Linked DNA regions of Homo sapiens. The protein of the gene in region 1 interacts with the protein of each later gene in a pairwise test. Each region holds a gene or a part of one and is shown on either strand. Other genes may lie near its edges.

Evidence for each region.
Region 2: the proteins of TACC2 (region 1) and GRAMD4 interact in a two-hybrid assay, tested with the Homo sapiens proteins (one large-scale study listed by BioGRID).

The regions. Positions count from the first base shown.
Region 1 is NC_000010.11:122,212,450-122,216,290, forward strand, and holds part of TACC2 (transforming acidic coiled-coil-containing protein 2), read left to right. Parts: intron 1-892; coding exon of another isoform or gene 893-928; intron 929-2,941; coding exon 2,942-3,002; intron 3,003-3,841. UniProt on the Homo sapiens protein: Plays a role in the microtubule-dependent coupling of the nucleus and the centrosome. Involved in the processes that regulate centrosome-mediated interkinetic nuclear migration (INM) of neural progenitors.
Region 2 is NC_000022.11:46,623,386-46,626,885, forward strand, and holds part of GRAMD4 (GRAM domain-containing protein 4), read left to right. Parts: intron 1-3,365; coding exon of another isoform or gene 3,366-3,414; coding exon 3,415-3,500. UniProt on the Homo sapiens protein: Plays a role as a mediator of E2F1-induced apoptosis in the absence of p53/TP53. Plays a role as a mediator of E2F1-induced apoptosis in the absence of p53/TP53. Inhibits TLR9 response to nucelic acids and regulates TLR9-mediated innate immune response.

The DNA.
Region 1 (3,841 bases):
CCTCCAGAATCCACCCCAGGACCCGGCTCTAATGTGGATGGCTGCTGGTCCTTTATTCTTTGGCCCCTGTGGTTAATATCTTGGCGATTTCCTTACTCTTACGGGAAGTATTGTCAGTAATTTAACAAGGCTGAGGAGATCAGTCTCCCAGGGGCAGCAGAACAGACCACAGCGCTGGCCCCTCTGGGTCTGCCTGGCACGAAAGAGACAGAACGACATGTTTACCTCCCATTCTGGGCTCCCCCTAACATTGAATTTCTGAGAAGAACCCAGGGCCTCCTGAGAGGAGGTCTCTACAGCAGGTTACCTTAGATCAACCTGCCACTGTCTAGTGGTGGCTGGAGGCCATCCTGGCCAAAATGGGGACTTTGTTTTAGATCAGTTACTCAACTAGGTCCCTACTAGAGACTCTCTAGAATTCACGTTGGAAACTTGATTTCAAGCCTGGAATAGGAGAAGTCTGCAATGGCTAGACTGCAAGGCCGTGCTCTCTCATCTGGAATGAGAGCCAACCTTAGCCGCCACCTCTTCCTTCTCCAAGATATGTTCTGTGTCTCATAGGCGTCCCCAGTCACTTTCTTGTTTGAATATTAGAGCTAACAGGGGTCAGGGAAGTTTACCCAACTGTGTCCTCACCTCTAGTGCAGACAGGGACTTTGGCGTGGAAGACCCTGCGTGGGTCTGACAAAGCTCTTGGGGCACCACGGCTTTGTGGGATCATTAGGATCAAGAGAGGAAGCTGTTCCCCAGCAGCTCCTTCCAAAAAGCTGGGGCATTGCCCTACAGCGGTGGCCGCCATATCCTAACCCATTAATAACCAGTTGTCTGCAGATTTATCTTTTTTGTCAGTTCCTTCTGTCTGTCTCTCTTTTTCTTTGTCTTCTTGTCTTAGGATGGTTGAAGATGTGATGTCTGTGTGTTCTCTGTTGTAAGTAAATTTAATGCAATCTGCCTCTTATGCCAAATGTGCTTATTTTTCTGCCTTTTGTTTCTGCTTCCAAGCCATTTTTATTTCCCCTCTGGCTGCTACTGATGTGTTTCTGTGGTGGGCCTGCGAATGATGGGGCATGGGGCTCCCCAGTAGCAAAGATTACTTTTCTGTTTCATAGTGATTTGCATAAGAGACTGCTTGGCTGTGAAAATGTGATTATCCAGCATCTGCCTGCTTATCAGGAATGGAACTTTTTTCCTTCCCTTGCATATTGGATGTCTTCATCTGAAATCAAACATTTTTTTTAAACTCTTCATTACATTTTTTCATTTTAAACTGGGCTAGTGGGCGATTGCTTTCAACACTACTGTGGCTTCACGTTAAAATAACTGTCTGGTCTAACCACAGGCAGCGACGGCCACAGCTTATTCTTGCTAACATGTAAAGCAGAAATATTTGGGCCGTTCCAAATTGAGGCCCACAGAGTGCCCTGAAATGCAGGGTCAGTGCAGAGTGGAGCACACAGCTGTGAGAGCCATCGCCAGGCTGCCCCAGTCCTGCATCCTCAGTCACCCAGGACCTGGCTGGGTGTCGGCATGCCTTGTCTGCCATCTGTGGGTCACCCTGCCACTTGTCAGTAGAAACAGAGCTGACCATTTCTGTGCCTCTGCTGCTTTGCCTCCCATGGCCAGGAGGGATCTGTGGGCAGCTCGGGGGGGTCCAAAGACATGCAACTTTTCCCTGTCCTTAGAAGGGAAGCCGGCCAGTCCAGGTGGCCAGCAGTCCCAGGATAGGGTCGAGTCCATCAGACTCTCTTCTGCCCAAGGGATTTCTTGAGTATTTTTGAGCCACTTAGCAACTATAAAATATATGGTTATATATTTATATGCATGAATAAATATATGCTTCAAGCTGCGATTGCACTGTTTTAATGGCAAATATTATAAATGCTGTAAATAGCCATTTATTTTTTTTTCATGATTAAATGCCATTGTTGGAGTGATTTGAGAGAACACAAGGAAGGAACTTGAATGCCAAATTGCTCTGCCCACCCAGTTAACATGCAAAGCAGGGGAGGGTGGTGGGATCTAAGGAGAGGGATCACCCCCCAAAGCCTTTGCTTTGCTGGGAGTGGGACCAACCCATGGAGGGGCTGGAGACGGGGCAGGGGCCAGTCTACAGGGTGGAAAGAGCCCCCATTCTGACTGTGGAAGTGACCCCCAGACTGCTCGGTGGACTTAATGGAACTGCTCAGGCTAAAAGGCATCCCTTTCTCCTGGGATCTGCTTCCTTGACCCTTCAGGAGTCTGATTTGGTGGTTTCCTTTGCCTCTCAGCCCCGCTATTCATATGGAGGAGAAAAAGGGAGAGAAGAGCTGTGAATCTTGTCTGTTTACCATGGTTAGGAGAAGACAAAAAAAATCATCTCTCCCCTGGCCCTACCTTTAGTCAGGATTCCACCTAGAAGCCTTCAGAGCATGGGAATCCATTGAGCTCAAAGATCCTGTGATAGGGAGGATTCAGGAGGTTCTCCTTGAGGACCCCGAACTTTCTATTTCTGCGTGGCCCCCTTCAGTTGTTCATTAAGTGAGGTGTCGCCTTGCCCGTCTGTAAATTGGTGTCCTGAGCCTAGAGCCCCTCCCCTAGCCTTAGTTGGGTTCAGATACCCCTGGAAGAATCCAGATAAATTAATCTGCTCACCAGAAATTTGCTTTATAAAATACGAACATTTAGTTAAATTTAGCTTCATTTTCTGGGTCATTCTCCAAAATGGCATCTCTTTAAAGATCTCCAGCTTGATGGATCTTTCCCTTGGGGGCAAAAATAATAGCTGTTAAAAAGTGAGAGTGGGTAGCCGGCGTGGCCTCTCGCTGGTGCTGGAGTGACAGAGGTGGGAGGGTGGCCTGGGCCAGATGGCTCCGCAGAGGCAGTAGCTTCGGTCCGCTCTGTACTGCTCTGGAGTGTTCCGTCCCTCTGCTTGTTGTGTTTACGTTTTCCATTTTGTTTCCAGTGACACATTTAGGGTGAAAAAGTCGCCAAAACGGTCTCCTCTCTCTGATCCACCTTCCCAGGTACAGTGTTCCTTTGATCTTGATGGTTTTATGCCCCCCCCGGGGGAGGTTTTCTTCGCTTGTTGACAAAGCTTTGCTTTCTGCTCATCCCGGGCCTGTTTCCAAGACCCTCTTCTTGCATTCTGTGTGGAGGGTCCCTCGATGTTTGCTTCACATTGTTTTGGTCCCTTCACTTTGCGGAAGATCAGAGTGTGTCCCGAGAGTGGGAAGACGTTCAGGAAAAACATTAGTTGGGCTCTGGAGGACCCACTCTGCTCCATTCAGGCCAGTTCATCTGCTGTGAACTTCTAGGACTGTCGAGATGAGAAAGTCTCTTGAGATGAACAAATATGCAGTGAGAAGGTGAAGAAACTCAGCAAGTGTCAGGAGCACTGAATTGTGCAGCCAAAATTGGAGTGGGAAGAAAAGGGAAGCCCCTCCCCTAAAGAAGTGGGGCTTAGGTTCTGTCTTGATTAGAGTCCCTCTTACCAGTTCCTCCATCAGATAGATTCCATTTCTTCTACCCTGTTTACAGACCAAGGAAAGTTATCGTCAAGCCTGTCAGTATGTTAGGGCTAATTTCTGGGTCATAAAACAAAACAGACCTGCCACCCCTCCAAATCTGAGCCAGCAAAGCCCCAGCCTGCAGACCCTGGCCAGAGTGGGGGCAGTGGAGGGAAGCACTCAGCCCTGGGGATAGGGGCTCAGGTCCCAGCTGCAGCTCTGTCCTGACCTCTCTAGGTTCCCACCCTGCCCTACTCCACTTCCCACTCTCCAGTGGAAATGGAGATAAGATCCCCCTTTTTCTGCCTCCAGGGACTGATGAGATGCTTGTCAGGTGATTCTGGTGATATTGATGT
Region 2 (3,500 bases), on another chromosome or scaffold:
TATTTTATTTTATTTTTTTTGACACAGAGTCTCACGCTGCCCCCCAGGCTGCAGTGCAGTGGTGCAGTCTCGGCTCATTGCAAGCTCCGCCTCCCGGGTTCATGCCATTCTCCTGCCTCAGCCTCCTGAGTAGCTGGGACGCTTGGACTACAGGTGCCCGCCACCTTGCCTGGCTGACTTTTTTGTATTTTTAGTAGAGATGCAGTTTCACCGTGTTAGCCAGGATGGTCTCGATGTCCTGACCTCGTGATCCGCCCGCCCCGGCCTCCCAAAGTGCTGAGATTACAGGCATGAGCCACCATGCCCGGCCTAGTTTCCTTTCTAGTGAGCTTGAAGGTTTTCGCGTATTAGGAAGTGGTCTTGTCATTTTTGCTACATTGACTACATTGTCAAGCTGCCTTTTTTTTTTTTTTTTAAACAGAGTCTTGCTCTGTTGCCCAGGCTGGAGTGCAGTGGCGTGATCTCGGCTCACTGCAACCTCCACCTCCCGGGTTCAAGCAATTCTCCTGCCTCACTCTTCCAAGTAGCTGGGATTGTAGGCGCACATCACCTCGCCCAGCTAATTTTTGTATTTTAAGCAGAGATGGAGGTTCGCCATGTTGACCAGGCTGGTCTCAGACTCCTGACCTCAAGTGATCCACTCACCTCGGCCTCACAAAATGCTGGGATTACAGGTGCCAGCCACCGCACCTGGCCTAGTCAAGTTGTCTTGTAACATGGATATTAATCCTTCATGTATCATATTTGTTACCTGTATTCCTTGTTTTATAGCGTATTTTGACATTTTTTACTTTCTTTTTACAAATGAGAGCTTTTTACTTTTGCCTGGTGGCCTGTTAGACATTTTTACTTAGTGGCTTTTTTTTTTTCAGTCCCTTAATATAGACTCTTCCATCTTCTTCTCTCTAGGGATTTCATAGCTACTAAGTTCCCTCTTCCTTTTTTTTTTTTTTTTTTTTTTTTTCTGAGACGGAGTCTCACTGCCCAGGCTGGAGTGCAATAGTGTGATCTTGGCTCACTGCAAGCTCCGCCTCCCGGGTTCAAGCAATTCCTCTGCCTCCGTCTCCTGAGTAGCTGGGACTACAGGTGCCCGCCACCACACCCAGCTAATTTTTGTATTTTTAGTAGAGACAGGGTTTCACCATGTTGGCCAGATGGTCTCGAACTCCTGCCCTCGTGATCCGCCTACCTTGGCCTCCCAAAGTGCTGGGATTACAGGCGTGAACCACTGCTCCCAGCTGTTCTCTTTTCTTTTAAGGTTTGTGTGTTTTTAAATTGACTGAACCTTTAGTCCCTCTGCAATTTGTAGCTCCTATATGGGAAGCTTTTCCAAATGGCTGGCTCATGCTCCCTCAGCCTATGAGCAGCAGTTGCTACCTCCCCATCACCCACATCCCCCTCCTGGGGTCCTCCCAGCTTCCAGGGGATGCTGGGCATCAGGACAGCTCCCCGTAGAGCCTGTGTCCTGTGGGATTTTTTTTTTTTTTTTTTTTGAGACAGAGTCTCGCTCTGTCACCCAGGCTGGAGTGCAGTGGCGGGATCTCAGCTCACTTCAAGCTCCGCCTCCTGGGTTCATGCCATTCTCCTGCCTCAGCCTCCTGAGTAGCTGGGACTACAGGCGCCCACCACCACGCCCGGCTAATTTTTTGTATTTTTAGTAGAGATGGGGTTTCACCGTGTCAGCCAAGATGGTCTCAATCTCCTGACCTTGTGATCCGCCCGCCTCGGCCTCCCAAAGTGCTGGAATTACAGGCGTGAGCCACCGCGCCCAGCGTCCTGTGGGTTTTGCAGCAGGGCCGGCATCAGGAATACTCAAGTGCCCATCCCAGGAGAGCCTCCCCTCCCCTCACCATGCTGGGAACCTCCGCGCCTCTGTGGCTCAGAGTGGGTTCTAGTGCGTTCTGTGTCTTCGGTCCTCACTGTTAATGAGTCTTCTTGCCACGAACTGTGATGCTGAGGAGAGCGGAGGAGGCTTTGGGGGCGGGGCAGGCATGTAGGAGCTGGAGCTGACCTTGCTCTCAGTGCTTCCTTGCCATGCTGCCCGCCCCAAGCAGGAAGTTTGGGAAATACCCCCGCCAGGGATCACTCCCCGCCCCATCTCCTTGCTCCTGGCCCAGTTGCCCTGTCTTCTTGAATTCCTGGATACCTTTGCCTTACTGGCATCTTTCCATTTTCAGAGGCAAAAATGTCAGCTCAGAAAGCTGGTCAGTGGCAGGACAGGCTTTCAGCCCAGGTGTGTACAGAGCAGTCCTCCCACGGGGACCCAGTTGTCTTGGACAAGTTGGGGACGGGGTTTTGGGAGAGGCATCCAGGCCATGGAGCTGCGTGATGGGGCTGGGGCTGGGTGGCCTCTCCCTGCCTGGCTGGCCCCTCCTGTGGGCCACTGATCCTGGCCTCCAGGCTTTTGGGGGTGCCTTGGTGTTGCTGGCCAGGTCGGGCAGCGATGTGGGGAGCAGTACCCCACGGCACATCCGCCCTTTGGCACGTGGTGTGTGTGAATTACGCGTGTCCTGATGCAGCACACAGTGACTCGCACCTCAGTGTGACCAGGTTTCTGTGTTGATTGGAGGAGGAGGCAGGCATGGGGGCTGGGACAGGAGGCCCAGCTGGCCATGGGTGCCTGACCCCGCTGTCTCTGGGAGGGCTTCTGGGAGGTGGTGCGATCTGAATGTGTCTCAGAGTATGAGCCTGGTCGCATGGCGAGTAGGAACACGCTTTAGGCAGAGGGAGCAGTGTGGGCGGAGTCCTGGGAGCCGGGGCCAGGTGGAGCAGGTGGGACACAAGGCCAGGTCCCCTAGGTCCAGGAGAGAATCAACCGAGGCATCCCTAGCACACGCATCTGCTGGTTTCCAGGCGTGGCTGCCGTCCTGGTGGTGTATGTGGCCGTCGTGTTGACCACGTTCTTGACGGTTTGTTAGGCAACCTTTTGGCATGGCTGGCCCTCCTTCCCAATGCCAGAGCAGCATTCTTCCCTTGCGCCTGCGCGCCGCCTCGCCGAGCCAGGCTGAGAACCCTGGCTTCCTTCTGCCTGCTGGGAGCCGGGGGCCTCGCTTGGTGGGAGGCAAGGACGCAGCTCAGCACTGACCAGGCTGGCCTGGGTGGGGTGGCCAAGGGCCCCACCTGATGGGTGCAGGGCGGGGGTCTCTGGGTCGGGGTTTTCTTTGGAAAGCTGGACCGGCCGTGCCCTGCGTGTGGGAGCTGGCTCGTGGGGCTTGGAGGTGTGTGTGGGAGGGACGGTGGCAGGGCGGGGTCTCTGGGTCGGGGTTTTCTTTGGAAAGCTGGACCGGCTGTGCCCTGTGTGTGGGAGCTGGCTCGTGGGGCTTGGAGGTGGCGAGCGGGAGAGTGACCACGCCCCTCTCTTGCAGGGAACCCGAGCGTCATGTTAGGGTGAAGCAGAGGACCTCAGTGCTGAACATGCTAAGGAGGTTGGACAAAATCAGGTTCAGAGGTCACAAGAGAGATGACTTCCTCGATCTAGCGGAGTCTCCAAATGCCTCGGA